Linked DNA regions of Homo sapiens. The protein of the gene in region 1 interacts with the protein of each later gene in a pairwise test. Each region holds a gene or a part of one and is shown in the gene's direction. Other genes may lie near its edges.

What was found.
Region 2: the proteins of ARHGAP5 (region 1) and FGF13 interact in a two-hybrid assay, tested with the Homo sapiens proteins (one study listed by BioGRID).

The regions. Positions count from the first base shown.
Region 1 is NC_000014.9:32,149,775-32,157,801, forward strand, and holds part of ARHGAP5 (rho GTPase-activating protein 5), read left to right. Parts: intron 1-127; coding exon 128-259; intron 260-2,648; coding exon 2,649-2,754; intron 2,755-4,846; coding exon 4,847-5,174; 3' UTR 5,175-8,027. UniProt on the Homo sapiens protein: GTPase-activating protein for Rho family members.
Region 2 is NC_000023.11:138,631,218-138,639,244, reverse strand, and holds part of FGF13 (fibroblast growth factor 13), read left to right. Parts: intron 1-3,589; coding exon 3,590-3,788; intron 3,789-6,258; coding exon 6,259-6,395; 3' UTR 6,396-8,027. UniProt on the Homo sapiens protein: Microtubule-binding protein which directly binds tubulin and is involved in both polymerization and stabilization of microtubules.

The DNA.
Region 1 (8,027 bases):
AAAAAAAAAAGAAAAAGAAAAGTGGCCCAAGACTTAAAGTTATCTTTTGATCTAAAAGTAACCATTTAGCTTGCTTCTATAATAAAGTTTTATTATATAATTTAAAATGTTAATTTTTGTCTTGTAGATCATAATATCAATCTAGTGTCAATGGAAGTAACAGTAAATGCTGTAGCTGGAGCCCTTAAAGCTTTCTTTGCAGATCTGCCAGATCCTTTAATTCCATATTCTCTTCATCCAGAACTATTGGAAGCAGCAAGTAAGTATAAACCTCCTTTTTATGAGAGGGATGATAATGGCAGTTTTTGGATATTGATTGCTAAGTGTTAAAATCATCATGTACTAGAATATGTAGCTAATAAAAATTAACTTAACTAGAACTCTATTTCTTAAAGGCATTTTCCTCTAAATTAAAATCAGAATCCCTGGAGATGGCCTCCAGGAATATTCTGTTTTAGCTAGCCCCCTAGGTGACTTAAATGCTCCTAGAAATTAGAAGATCATTGTACTAGAAGTTTGAGGTTTGTGTTTTTAATTCAAACTTAAGGGCATTGTAAGAAAATTAAATAAATTCTTCAAATTGTAAGTCAAAGAAATTTACTTTGGCTTTGTCTTACCTGTTTTATGTTGCTGTAACAGAATACTACAGACTGCATAATTTATAAAGTAATTTATTTCTTACAGTTCTAGAGGCTGGTAAGTTCAGGGTCAAGGAGGCCTCATCAGGTGAGGGCCTTTTTGCAAAGTCATTCCATGACCGAAGGTGGAAGGGCAAGAGAGCACACTCAGAGAGTAAGAGACAAGAAGGGGGCTGAACTTACTCTTTTATCAGGAACTCATTCCCAAAATAGCTAACTCACTTCAGAGATAACAGCGTTAATCTGTTCATGAGGACAAAACCCTCATGATATAGTCACCTCTTAAAGATTCCACCTCTCAACACTGTTGCCTTGGGGATTAAGTTTCCCACACAAGAACTTTGGGGGAAACATTCAAACCATAGCAGACCATGTGTTGTAAGTCATTTTGGGAAAGAACATGATATTTATTTAGTATTTATTCCTACTTTGGCATCTTTCATTCAGATGTTTCCACTAAACAGATATTCATTTATCTGGAAAATGAGAACTAAAGTCTGTTTGGGCATCAGTTTCATCCACATGATTTCTCAGTGACAAAAAATTAGCACAGTTGCTAAATACTTCTCTCTACTATTTCCTTTTGGTTGCAAGTCTTCAGGTTATTTTAGATGAGACTACTTCGTATTGTTCTAAGTTCTCAGTGATTCTTTTTTTTAATTCTGTATATTGTCACAAGGTATAGTTGCCTTATATATACGTACTCTCAGGTAAAGTGGGAAAATGGCTTAATTGATAGCTTAGATGTTCTTATCTATTGACCATTAATAGGAACCTCAGAACATTCCTACTTAGGAAATTTTTGAGGACTGATTTAGAAGTAATGTGTAACAAATGAAATGTTGTTAGTAATTGGTTATGCTACCATAATGATGTGGTGTGCACACTGGTCTCCAAAATAAGGAAGAGGTGGAAAGCACCCTCTATCTCATTTATTTCAGGGCCACATTTTAGTTACTCTGTTTCATAATTGCATAGATTTGGAGAGTAAGTTAAATACTTAAACTGCCTGTAAAGGAAAATCTTTGATAAGCAAAATGGATTACAAGTAATTGTAGTATAGGCGAATCTATAGCCCGAGGGCCATATTTAGGCTATCGCCAGTTTTTGGCAGACTTTTAAGCTGAGAGTCGTTTTTACACCAAGAGAAAAGAAAATTTCATGACACATTAAAATTACATGAAATTCAAATTTCAGAAGTTTTATTGGAGTATAGCCACTCCCGTTTGTTACATGTTGTCTGTTACTGCTTTTGTGCTACAACACAGGGTTGAGTAAGTGTGCCCACAAAGCCTAAAATAGTTACTCTGTAGCATAAATGTTAAGAGCCTAACATATTTATAAGTAATTAGTTAATTATAAATCAGTATCTAGTTACGTAAATTGCTAACGTACCATTTCCCATTTTGTCAATGCTGGGTCACTTTGGTCTTCAGTGATTAGCTTTCCTTATAAAAAGGCTATAGTAATAAATGATGACATTAATAGAAATAGATAATGTTAGTTGAAGTGATTTCTTAATTTACATAATTTAGCAGGTTCTTTTGAACAGGGCTCTCCAACCCCTAGGCCACACAGCCTGGCTTGTTAGGAACCAGGCTGCACAGCAGAAGGTGAGGAGTTGGATAAGGGAAACCGGGCTCCACCTTCTGTCAGATTAGGTGCGGCATTAGATTCTCCTAGGAGTGGGAACCCTATTGTGAACCACGCATGCAGGGGATCTAGGTTGTGCACGTCTTATGAGAATCTAATGATAAATGTAATGCACTTGAATCATCCTGAAACCATCCCCCCACCCATCTGTGGAAAAACTGTCTTCCACAAAACTGGTCCCTGGTGCCAAAAAGGCTGGGGACTGTTGCTTTAGAACATTTTCTTTGATTTTGTTTACCTATCCTAATATGCTTTAAACACATTCTTGACTGTTATAGTAAATATAGCAGGAAGCTTTATCAAATATTTTTAAATGTGTAAGTTTTACACAGATTCTTCACTGTTTTAATTTTACAGAAATCCCGGATAAAACAGAACGTCTTCATGCCTTGAAAGAAATTGTTAAGAAATTTCATCCTGTAAACTATGATGTATTCAGATACGTGATAACACATCTAAACAGGTATTTTTATTTTTTTAGGGTTTTTTGGCAAATAAAATGCACTACACATTTCAAACATGTAAATTTTATAAATTGGATAATTATCAGATAGAAAAGGGGACTCAGACTAAACATATAGTTGAATTTTGTTTTTCTAATTTATATCTAAAAAGATATATGATTAGTTTTGTAATGTAATTATTATATAAATAGTAAGTGTGGTAAGTATATTTTCCTTTTTACCACATTCTCTGTAAAATCTTAGAATTTTAGATATGAAATGACACTCAGATAACTAACCAGATTGACCTATTTGGAGTTGGAACAGGGTTTGGTTTGAAAAATTACTAGTTCTGTGACCTTGGGTAAATGACTTATTCTTCCTAAGTCTTGATTGTCTCAACTATAAACATGAAAATAACAACACTTCACAAAGTTGTTCTGAGGACTGAATGGAACTATTTTAGTATATGTACTAATTTTTTGAAAAGTCTCCTCATAATATTTTCTACTGGCATTTTAATGAACTGTATGGTTTTTTTTGTTTTTTTTTTTTTTTAAACTAATAGTATCAACACCCAAACCAAGTACATTTCAGCTGGTACCTCCTAAAAGAGGATTCACCAATGTTTAAAGCTTACTTTTTACTAGCAATGTGGTATAAAATTGTATTAACATTTCTTATAACCTTTCCCTGAGAAAATACCATGGAAACATGGTGAAACCCCATCTCCACTAAAAATACAAAAATTAACTGGGCGTGGTGTGAGCATCTGTAATCCTAGCTACTCAGGAGGCTTGGGGCGGGAGAATTGCTTGAGCCCGGGAGGCGGAGGTTGCAATGAGCTGAGATCATGCCATTGCACTTCAGTCTGGCCAACAGAGCAAGACTCTGTCTCAAAAAAAAAAAAAAAAAAAAAAAAAAAAAAAAAAAAAAAAGATTGTTTTATGGAATGCTAGCAGCCAGGTTTTTTTTTTTTTTTTGAGATGGAGTCTTGCTCTGTCGCCAGGCTGGAGTTCAGTGGCATGATCTCAGCTCACTGCAACCTCCGCCTCCTGGGTTCAAGCAGTTCTCTTGCCTCAGCCTCCCGAGTAGCTGGGATTACAGATGTACACCACCACACCCAGCTAAATTTAGTATTTTTAGTAGAGACAGGGTTTCATCATGTTGGCCAAGATAGTCTTGATCTCTTGACCTTGTGATCCGCCTACCTCGGCCTCCCAAAGAGCTGGGGTTACAGGCGTGATCTACCGCACCTGCTGCAACCAGGTTTTCTGAAAGTTAAAAATTCTCAGCCAGATGCGGTGGCTCAACACTTTGGGGAGCTGGAGGCCAGGAGTTTGAGACCAGTCTGAGCAACATAGTGAGACTTGATTCTCAAAAAAAAAAAGGAAGAAAGGAGAGAGAAAGAAAGAGAGAGGAAAAAAAAAGAGAGGAACAGAGGAAGGAAGGGAAAATTAGCCTGATATTAGTGTCAAACACCTATGGTAGTAATTTTTCCAAAGCTAGTTGAGAGAGCATACTCTGGTTTTTCATCTCTCACAGTAGTCAAAGAAGTTACATATACAATTAGAATTTGTTGTTTCTGTTGCCAGAAACTCAATACAATTTGTCACATCAGGAAAGGTTTTTTGTTGTTATTGTTGTTGTTTTTGAGACGGAATTTCACTTCACTCTTGTTGCCCAGGCTGGAGTGCAATGGCGCGATCTCGGCTCACCACAACCCCCACCTCCCAGGTTCAAGCGATTCTCCTGCCTCAGCCTCCCAAGTAGCTGGAATTACAGGCTTTGTCACTACGCCTGGCTAATTTTGTATTTTTAGTAGAGATGGGGTTTCTCCATGTTGGTCCTGCTGGTGTCGAACTCCCAACCTCAGGTGATCCGCCTGCCTCAGCCTCCCAAAGTGCTGCGATTACAGGCGTGAGCCACTGCACCTGGCCCAGGAAAAGTTTTTTACATACGAATTAAAGATGCTTCTTTATGCAAATTTTTAAACCCCAGGTTTGAAGTAGGATAAAAGGTAACATTAAATCTGAGATCATTTCTAGCTCTGGAATTCTGTGATTGTAATGAGTTTTGATTTCTAAATGTTTTTTCCTTTCATAATTTCAGGGTTAGTCAGCAACATAAAATCAACCTAATGACAGCAGACAACTTATCCATCTGTTTTTGGCCAACCTTGATGAGACCTGATTTTGAAAATCGAGAGTTTCTGTCTACTACTAAGATTCATCAATCTGTTGTTGAAACATTCATTCAGCAGTGTCAGTTTTTCTTTTACAATGGAGAAATTGTAGAAACGACAAACATTGTGGCTCCTCCACCACCTTCAAACCCAGGACAGTTGGTGGAACCAATGGTGCCACTTCAGTTGCCGCCACCATTGCAACCTCAGCTGATACAACCACAATTACAAACGGATCCTCTTGGTATTATATGAGTAGGAAGTGATTGCAAACAGGCTGGATTTGGACAAAAAGCAAATCTAGACATGCATGTTTCAGGGTTCAGTAGTATACTTCATGTTTCATACAGATAATTCACATTCAAAATTACATTTTCTCTTTGAACTAGATGGTATTCCTTATTCACTTACATTACAAATCTAAGACCATGTGATAAGCATGACTGGAGAGGTTTAATTTTTATAAACAAAAATAGCTATAAAGTACAAAGCTGCTGCTGCATGCAACCTTATTGCAATCAGTATATCATTCCTGTGGCAATTTCTGTCACCTTATATTGTGAATAAAATTTTTCTATAGAAATTAAATGATTTAAAAACTCACCTATATGAAACATTTAATGCTTTTCAGCCTGCTTTCTGGCTGATTTTGTTATTTGATGTGCTAATTTGGGCAACTTAATTTACATTCTGGCAGTCGGTGTAGATAACTAAAAGCCCAGTTAAGTATTTTATAATTTCAGGCTACTGAGGCCATGCTTGGGATGTTGTTTGAAAGAAAGAAAAAATACACTTGACATATTTCACATTTCTGTACCTTCATCTTTACTTCCAAGTAAACCCGTGGATGATTTGATGAGGGATAAATGAACCTATTTCTTTTACACACATACCAAGGACATGCTTGTGGCTAAAGTGAGTTGATAATGTTGTGCAAAGGATAGTTGTCACCAACTCATTTCTTTATGGTCCATAATGAAATAAAAATTTTGTATACTGTTAATTCTGTAAACAGATGCATGTTCAAAAGATCTATGATGGTCTTGTAATCTTAATCTAATATATTTTAGATATTTTAATTTTTTCCCTCTTGGGGAACACATTTAGTATAGTGTAGAAAATACTTCCATGACATTTTCATATAAGGTTATATAACTTTTCATACATAAACATGAAATTTGTTGTAGAAAATTCTTTAAACCAAACATTTAAATCTAGGACTTCAATTTAATTTGTTCCTTGAATCTATTTTTATGTGGCCCTTAAAAAATATCCAAAAAACCCATTGCTAATATAGCAATAAAAATACTTTGGGTACTGACAGACTCTTTGGAGTGTTTATATTACAAATTTGTATTCATATTCTTTTCTGTGATGTGTTGTACTAAAATCCAAAATGGCTTTTGCACCATTTTTAAGCCAATTTTTTCCTTTGATGTTGGTACCAGAATTACTATAAGTGACTGCTGCTTTTGGGGGTAAACATTTTGTTAGTGAAGATAAAACCAGAACACTAAATTATGGATAAAATTTTCAGAATAGGTGGCACAGGTAAATTTCACTAGGTTATATTTTGTGTAGTAAAGAAAAAAATTATTTGGTCAATGTTATCTTAATTCATACTACAATTTAAGATTATCTTATGTGTATTATAGTAAATAGATGATTTTCAGATTCAAGGCTCCTAAGAGTTTGATTTGCTCTGTTTTTTCCTAAAATAAATATTGTCTCTCCCAACTGTTAAGTTCTAGGTATTGTACTTCCAATTTTAACTTCAGAACCAAGATGTTGGCATGAACCAGGCTGCTGTTGAAGTACATGTATATTATAAATTATCTTATTTGTGTTATACTCTTACATGTTATCTTTTCTAAGAAAACAAAGTCCCTATTATTCCTATTGCAAAGCACACAGGAATTAAGAAAGTACAGTAATTTTTAAAAAAAAATCCGGTAAATGTAGTATTCTTAACCTGTTCTATATTACTTATACCTATTGTCTATATAGCTTTAATTTATAGTTGTCAGTTTAACTATTGGCATGTCTGGCAAAGAAAATTAAACTTTAAGAGTTTTATAAACTGTTTCTAGGTTGCTAAAGAATTTATTTTTCTACTATATATGGTATAGACAAAGCATCAAACTATGTACAGGAAAAAAGCCTGACTATTTCTATTTGGAAGTAGGCTGAAAAGAGAATTTTCAAAACTGTTCGTGTCTTCAGTTCATTCTGTCATAACTTTGCTATTGTAATATGTGAATACCAGTTTATTTAAGCTGTTCTCTTTTATACTGTATTAATTTAATGTTCATCTGCGTTTAGTACCATTTTTGTTATTAAAACTGGCATTTACCGTTTTTCACATTAACCCACCTTGCACCTTCCCCCAAACTTATCTCCACTTTTCTATGCATTCTATCATTGATTTGACACACTTCATAGTGAGTCATTTAAATACTCTACGTTTGGTTCAATTAACCAGTAGGTTACAGTTATTGAAAATTAAAGTACAGTTTAAAGCTCAGTCTGTTACACTGAATTGATTGTGTTTGTTTTTGCCAAGGGTTTAGATATGCTTTTAAATATTAGAAACATCTAAGAACAGAATAACATAATTAAACTTTTTTCTGGTAAGTTACTGGAAGGTTTCACTGTTTAGGGACCTATCATATGAGACTTCTTAAAGGATTAAAAGAATAGGATAGTCTCATAATTGTGAGTAAACATCAAGGCATTATATTTTACAATACTGAATAAAATTTCATCTACACACATGTTGCCATTGTTTCATTTAAGGTTCAGTGCTTATAGTTAACTACAATATTGGACCTAACAGGATCTAGATTAGCAATATAAAGAAGCATAGTGGTACTCTGTTTCACACTTTCAGTAGATTTATTAGAAGTCAAATTCTATTCAACAGACACTTATTAGGATATACAACTAATTTAAGAATAAAATTCCAGGCACAATATATTTTTTTTAAATGGTATTTGTTAGTAGTGCTTCTTCCCCTTAACATTTACAGTGTAAATACTGCAGGTAACCGCAATCTAAGTTAGCCAAAAAGCAGCTTTTTTTCCCATACTGTATGTAAATAATGTAGAC
Region 2 (8,027 bases), on another chromosome or scaffold:
TCTCCTCTGAACAGGGATTTCGTGGGTTGGGACAAATCCAATTTCTATTATTCATATGAATCACTGCAGAGACATAGGGGTGAAACTGTATCCTTTTGGTGGACCTGCCTGTGTTGGGTGACATGCTCACATTTTTCCACATTTGATAAAAATCAAGCCTCTTCTGCCTACTCAACACTGGATAAAATGACAGTGTCATACACAGAGAACAGAACACTCCTTTGGTTGCTTCAGCATTCTTTTTTTGGCCTCATTTTTCTCCCTCTTTACTGAGTTTTTGAGTCCAAATTTAGTGGTGATGACTAAGAAATTGCCAGGATGTGACAGAGCATTCAGTTCATTGAGTCCTTCCTTGCCATTTTTCAATAGTTGTAACAATTGCCAAGATTTTCTCCTGATGTTATAGGTGCCACGTTATAGGTGCCAGATACTAAATTACACTTGCAGAATCTGTCCATGCAGTGACAGCCTCATTTTACATACAGCTGATTTCATGATATGGTATTAAGGAAAATCCCTGCAGACTTTTTACTAGTTGATAATTCTGAGTCCTAGAATTTCCAATATTTAAATCTGAATCTCTGAAATTCAAATCACATAAACAATAATCAAGCGGTCTGCCATGTGCTAACGTGTCATTTTTGTTGGGGGAAGGTAGATTGGGGAAAAAATAAGACAAGTTCCCTACCATCTGGAGCTAATCATACAGTTGTATGAGTCACAGGGCCATGCTAGAGATGTAGATAGAGTTTATGGGAGCACAGATAACAGGTGTAATCAGTTCTGATTGGGAGAGATTATATGTGATTCTGGAAACAGTCATATTTGAGCTAGGCCTTGGAGGGTTAGAGGAAAGCCAGTAGGTAGAGAAACAAAGGAATGACATTCTAAGCAAAGGAAATGAATGGCATCAGTAAAGCGCAAAGGCACACATGGTTCTGTGGTGAATGACACTGGAAGATGACGCTGGAAGGCATGGTAGTGACTGAATTGTGGAGAATTTTTAAATGTTACATCAAGTTGTTTGTTGTTTTTACTATAGGCAAGGTGAAATCATCAAAATTTCCCAAGGAAGGGAACTTTGCTTTAGGAAAGCAAACCTGCCAGCTGAAGAGAAGAAACCAGTTAGGATGTTATGACAGCAGTCCAGTGAAGAGGTAATAAGGCGCAAAGTAGAGCAGTGGCATTGGGAATGGAAGGTGAAGGTCATGGATCACGGACTAGAGGGCACAGGAATGAAATGAAAGGCCCTCTGAAGTGTTAAGTGAGCAACTGCCAGGATGGTGGATTCCAGTTACTAAGACAGGGAACACAGGAAAAGTAGAGGAAGTGTGGCCCTGTGCTTCAAATATTATTCTTCCCTGTTTTCTGTATTGAAAAGCTCGGCTAAAATGATACCCTCTCTGTGAATCCCTCCCTAGTCCCTCAGTCAGAATTAAGTCTGGCTTTTTCTGTTTTCATACAGCACCTCCTGTAAGCCTCCCTTTCTTTCCTTATGGTAGCACACATTGTATCTATGACATTTGTGTACATGCTTGATACCTACAAATATATGATAAGCTGTCTGAAGCCACATATTACTTACCTATGAATATTTAGCACCGATCAACTACATAATGGATCCTTAGAAAATGTGTATTAAATGAATGTATGAATGCTGCTATCACACAAGACATTAAATGCAGCCCATTTTTGGGACCTGACTTAGAATATGCAATGATCCCATCTCACCATTCTGGAGTCAGCCATACATTGTTTATGTGGCTATTTGGTATCATTTGCCTTGATCATATGCATTTTTCACCAGATATATTTTCAAAATGGTTTGATTCTTTATGAAAGGAAAATCCATTCTCCAATGATGACTTTTTTCCGTACAGTGATTTAATTCCCAAAGAATTTCAGCAACGTTCTATGTACTTGTCCTCATCACTAAAGGAAATGTGGAGACTTCTAGTCAAATTTCTTGGTACTTTCTTGGCTTTCTCTATGTTGAGAAATCCTACAAAGAGGAGTTTTCACAGCCCATAAATAGAACATTTTGGTTCCTAACATGTGACAGTTGCCTTAGAAGTACATTGCTTCTTGAGTAGGTTGAATTTGTGTGAATCCTCTGAACATCTATCGAGTGTGCCCCTAGGCTGAAATAACCCCAAAAGATACTTCAGTTCGTGCATTCTGGGAGCCAGATTGGGAAGATGGGGGGAGATTAGGCAGATTACTGTGTGAAACACTGTTTGTAGAATCCCAGAAAAAAGGAAAGGAAATTGCTTGAGTGCTTAAATTTCAGAGAAAAGCTGCCTTGCCTGAGGAATATATCCCTCTTTGCTGAAGTGACTGAGAGGGCTTCAGATGTTGCTGCTCAGCTAGTGTGTATTGCTTAAAATGGTATCCAATATGAAAAATAAAGGAAGGTAGAACCATGGAGACATTGTTTTTAAAAGACTAGTGCCCCAGAAAGCTTGCAATATTTGTTTGTATACATGTTTTTGGTGATAGTACCAAGTGTTTTTCCTGATAACATCTCAGCAAATTAGCAAAAATCTGATAGTTTAATTGGTGCCTCTATGACATGTAGCTCACTTAGCATTTTCCTAATAATCTTCCACTCCAAGTAGGCCCTTTGCTACTCTATGGATTACTTATACATTCAAATCTACTATTCATTTCATTTAGCTTAGAAATTATCATTTTTAATGGCTGTTTATTGTACACATAGACACGTGTACACTCAAACACACAAAAGGTTTTTTGTTGTTGTTGGTTTTTTTGTTTGTTTGTTTGTTTCCTTGAAATGGTCTATTGAGGGCAGGAGCCCTTCATTTGAAAAATCCAGTCTAAAGTAAAAATGGCCAAATGCATGACAGAAAACCATATTCCTGAGTTCAAAGTCCACTGGGCTGCTCTATCGTGTCTGCTAGTAAAATTGCTGTAAATTCCTTGCTTTTGTATTGATTTGCATGTAAATGTTACTGTAAGGCAAGGATGGGGTGAGGGGGGAATTTTTCTTTCTGTCTCAAGTCAAGGTCCAATGATCCAAAAAAAATCAATTTGGTTTACCTAAAAGTAAAAGGTAGGCTTTCTTTGTAGCATTCTTTTAGAAATATAGGCAGAAAGCATTGTAACACAGATTTCAGCCTGAGGCAATTGACAACCATAGTGTATAATAACTCAAGAATCCATGAAAATTAAGTACAAGGACCGAATGTTTATTTTCTCATATTGAACCCTGAAGGGAACAAAGCTCCATGTGTCAGTTTTATGCTTGTCTTTTCAATCCTTGGCTCTTGTAGTTGTCCAATATATTTCACTTATGTGGCTTGTTCTAATGTTCCCATTACCTATTACAAAGAGAGCTAATCATTGATCAATAGCACTTTCACTTATGACTTTTTCTAAAGCATCATGTGAAATGTTATATGTAGTCTGATGGTTTCCAATGATGATAGTTTATGCTATTAAAATAGAGCACCAGTCACACGAGCTTTTACAAAGTATGTCTTAATCTCCTAAAAGGCAATACCACATGATTCTACAGGAAATTCATAGCTATAAACACTGAACTTTTGTTTATTTACTTTTGTTGCAGGAACTTTTCACACCTGAGTGCAAATTCAAAGAATCAGTGTTTGAAAATTATTATGTGACATATTCATCAATGATATACCGTCAGCAGCAGTCAGGCCGAGGGTGGTATCTGGGTCTGAACAAAGAAGGAGAGATCATGAAAGGCAACCATGTGAAGAAGAACAAGCCTGCAGCTCATTTTCTGCCTAAACCACTGAAAGGTACATTTGATATTGTGGGAACTATGGATTATGCTACTAAATATACTTATTTATTTATTAAATTTCAATAGTTTTGGGGGTACAGGTGGTTTTTGGTTACATAGACAAGCTATTTAGTGGTGATTTCTGAAATTTTGGTGCACTCATCACCCAAGCAGTATACACTGTACCCAGTATGTAGTGTTTTATCCCTCACCCCACTCTCAACCTTCCCCCCAACCAAGTTCCCAAAGTCCATTATATCATGCTTATGCTTTATGTCTTCATAGCTTAGCTCCCACTTAAGTGAGAACATACAATATTTGGCTTTCCATTCCTGAGTTACCTCACTTCGAATAATGGCGTCCAGCTCCATCCAAGTTGCTGCAAAAGATATCATATCATTTCTTTTTATGGCTGAGTAGTATTCCATGGTGTATATATATACCACATTTTTTTATCCACTCGTTGATTGATGGGCACTTAAGTTGGTTCCATATTTTGGCCATTGTGAATTGCGCTGCTATAAACATACCTGTGCAGTTGTGTTTTTCATATGATGACTTATTTTCCTTTCAGTAGCTAGCCAGGAGTGAGATTGCTGGATCCAATGCTACTTTTAGTTCTTTAAGGATTCTCCATACTGTTTTCCATAGTGGTTGTACTGATTTACATTCTCGCCAGCAGTGTAAAAGTGTTCCCTTTCACCACATCCATGCCAACATCTGTTGTTTTTTGACATTTTAATTATAGCCATTCTTGCAGCAGTAAGGTGGTATCTCATTGTGGTTTTAATTTGCATTTCCCTGATGATTAGTGATGTTGAACATTTAGAAATAGTAATTTAAAGCAGTCCTTAATAATACTTTTGAAAATGAAACAGTTGTTCCACATTAAGACATTTATTTAAAAAACTTACATTTTGTAACACTCAAAAACATTTGCTCTCCTGATTTTAATTTTTCCATAGTGCATGTACATATAGTGACACTTTACTTATGTGGAAGTAACTTACATGCTAACTCAGGACAGCCAAGATCCCCAAATTATGCTAAAATGTTGCCTGGGCAGAAACATAGGTGTTAAAAATGTGTATACACAGCCGGGCACGGTGGCTCACGCCTGTAATCCCAGCACTTTGGGGAGGCCGAGGCGGGCGGATCACGAGGTCCGGAGAATGGCGTGAACCTGGGAGGCGGAGCTTACAGCGAGCTGAGATCGTGCCACTGGACTCCAGCCTGGGCGGCAGAGTGAGACTCCGTTTCAAAAAACAAAAGAAAAAAAAAATGTGTGTACACTTAACACTTACCAGAAAGCTCCTTGGGTCCTCTCTAAGGGCCCAACATATTATTTCAGCAAATTTTGCTTATAGTTTTCCCATCATTATTAGCAGATTAATAGCAAATTAGAAAGGGTGAGGGACAAGAATAGGCTATGGAAGATAGGGAGGTAAGAAATAGTGAGATATGGTAGAGAAGAGACAGAAAATGCGGGCAAAGCAGAGGAAGACTTCAAAGAGATTACTAGCCTGAGGTAAGAGTAGGGGTTTAGAGTAGAGGCAGACACTGTGCAATTCGAATAAGCACAGCACTGTGTTTTACAGCACATTTTTTGGAGCCAGACTACCTAAATTCAAGGCCCAACTTCACTTTTTGCTAACTGGATGGTCTTGAACAGGTTATTTACCTGTGTATGCCTCAAGTTCATCTGTATAATATGGATAAGAGTACTTATAAGATTCTCATAGGGACTAAATGGGATAATGCATGCAAAGAACTTAGAGTAGTATCTAATGTTATGTGTTCCATAACTATAAGCTATTATGTTTATTTATAGCACAATAATAAATTTTACCATTTACTGTACCAAGAATTATCCAATACTTAGACTCTTGAAGTGTTTCATTTTAAAGTATGATAGAAATCAGTGTTTTAAAATATTTTAAATTTTAATATTTGCCTTGTACAGTATGCTATAGATCATATTTAAACTTCTAAGAGGTTTATTAAATGCATTTTTTATTAATCCTCTCTTACATAACCATATGTGGTTGAAGTTAGGCATTAAAATTCTTTACACACTACTACACCAAGGCTAGATTTTTGCTTAATCTGAACCTGTCCACTCTCTACTGAGTCCTTGAAAGCAGTGTTTTTCATGTCTGGCTTAAGGCACAGAAGCCTAGTAACCAAAAGAAAAGTTGAGGACCAGTGTGGTAGGCCCATTTTTTTAATGTATTTTTTTTCTCTTTTTCCTTTTCTGAATTTAATTTATAATTGACACAAAAATTGTATATATTTATTATGAACAAGGTATTTTGAAATATGTATACATTGTGGAATAGCTAAATCAAGCTAATTAACATATGCATTACCTCACATACTTATCATTTAGGTGTGTGGAATAGAACACCTACAAACTATTCTTAGAAATTTTCACAATTGGTATGCCCATTTGAAGGCCTTTTACACCATCTTTGTGTGCTTTTCAGTGGCCATGTACAAGGAGCCATCACTGCACGATCTCACGGAGTTCTCCCGATCTGGAAGCGGGACCCCAACCAAGAGCAGAAGTGTCTCTGGCGTGCTGAACGGAGGCAAATCCATGAGCCACAATGAATCAACGTAGCCAGTGAGGGCAAAAGAAGGGCTCTGTAACAGAACCTTACCTCCAGGTGCTGTTGAATTCTTCTAGCAGTCCTTCACCCAAAAGTTCAAATTTGTCAGTGACATTTACCAAACAAACAGGCAGAGTTCACTATTCTATCTGCCATTAGACCTTCTTATCATCCATACTAAAGCCCCATTATTTAGATTGAGCTTGTGCATAAGAATGCCAAGCATTTTAGTGAACTAAATCTGAGAGAAGGACTGCCAAATTTTCTCATGATCTCACCTATACTTTGGGGATGATAATCCAAAAGTATTTCACAGCACTAATGCTGATCAAAATTTGCTCTCCCACCAAGAAAATGTAAAAGACCACAATTGTTCTTCAAAAACAAACAAAACAAAACAAAACAAAATTAACTGCTTAAATGTTTTGTCGGGGCAAACAAAATTATGTGAATTGTGTTGTTTTCTTGGCTTGATGTTTTCTATCTACGCTTGATTCACATGTACTCTTTTCTTTGGCATAGTGCAACTTTATGATTTCTGAAATTCAATGGTTCTATTGACTTTTTGCGTCACTTAATCCAAATCAACCAAATTCAGGGTTGAATCTGAATTGGCTTCTCAGGCTCAAGGTAACAGTGTTCTTGTGGTTTGACCAATTGTTTTTCTTTCTTTTTTTTTTTTTTTAGATTTGTGGTATTCTGGTCAAGTTATTGTGCTGTACTTTGTGCGTAGAAATTGAGTTGTATTGTCAACCCCAGTCAGTAAAGAGAACTTCAAAAAATTATCCTCAAGTGTAGATTTCTCTTAATTCCATTTGTGTATCATGTTAAACTATTGTTGTGGCTTCTTGTGTAAAGACAGGAACTGTGGAACTGTGATGTTGTCTTTTGTGTTGTTAAAATAAGAAATGTCTTATCTGTATATGTATGAGTCTTCCTGTCATTGTATTTGGCACATGAATATTGTGTACAAGGAATTGTTAAGACTGGTTTTCCCTCAACAACATATATTATACTTGCTACTGGAAAAGTGTTTAAGACTTAGCTAGGTTTCCATTTAGATCTTCATATCTGTTGCATGGAAGAAAGTTGGGTTCTTGGCATAGAGTTGCATGATATGTAAGATTTTGTGCATTCATAATTGTTAAAAATCTGTGTTCCAAAAGTGGACATAGCATGTACAGGCAGTTTTCTGTCCTGTGCACAAAAAGTTTAAAAAAGTTGTTTAATATTTGTTGTTGTATACCCAAATACGCACCGAATAAACTCTTTATATTCATTCAAAGAATAATCTTCCAACATGTATTTATTGAGCGTCCATTATGTGCCAGTAACTGAAGTAGCAACTGGAAGTAAACATTGTATAATGCAGATAAGGTCACTGTCCTCAGATAGTCTACAGTCTAGAGAGTCATATTAACATGAACACTTTAAAGTGTGTTTATTTTACTAGTTACTGTACTTGCACTTCAGATTGGTACAAAGGAATTCACATTCCCGTTCAGTAGTCAAATTATACAAATGAGGCGTTTGTGCTAGTATTTTCTCTGCCACTCACAGTGTCATTTCCCCTCTCTGTTGCTTATTTCTCTCCTCTCTAGAGGGAATACACAGGACTAAATAGTGTCCTTTCTACCTTTGAG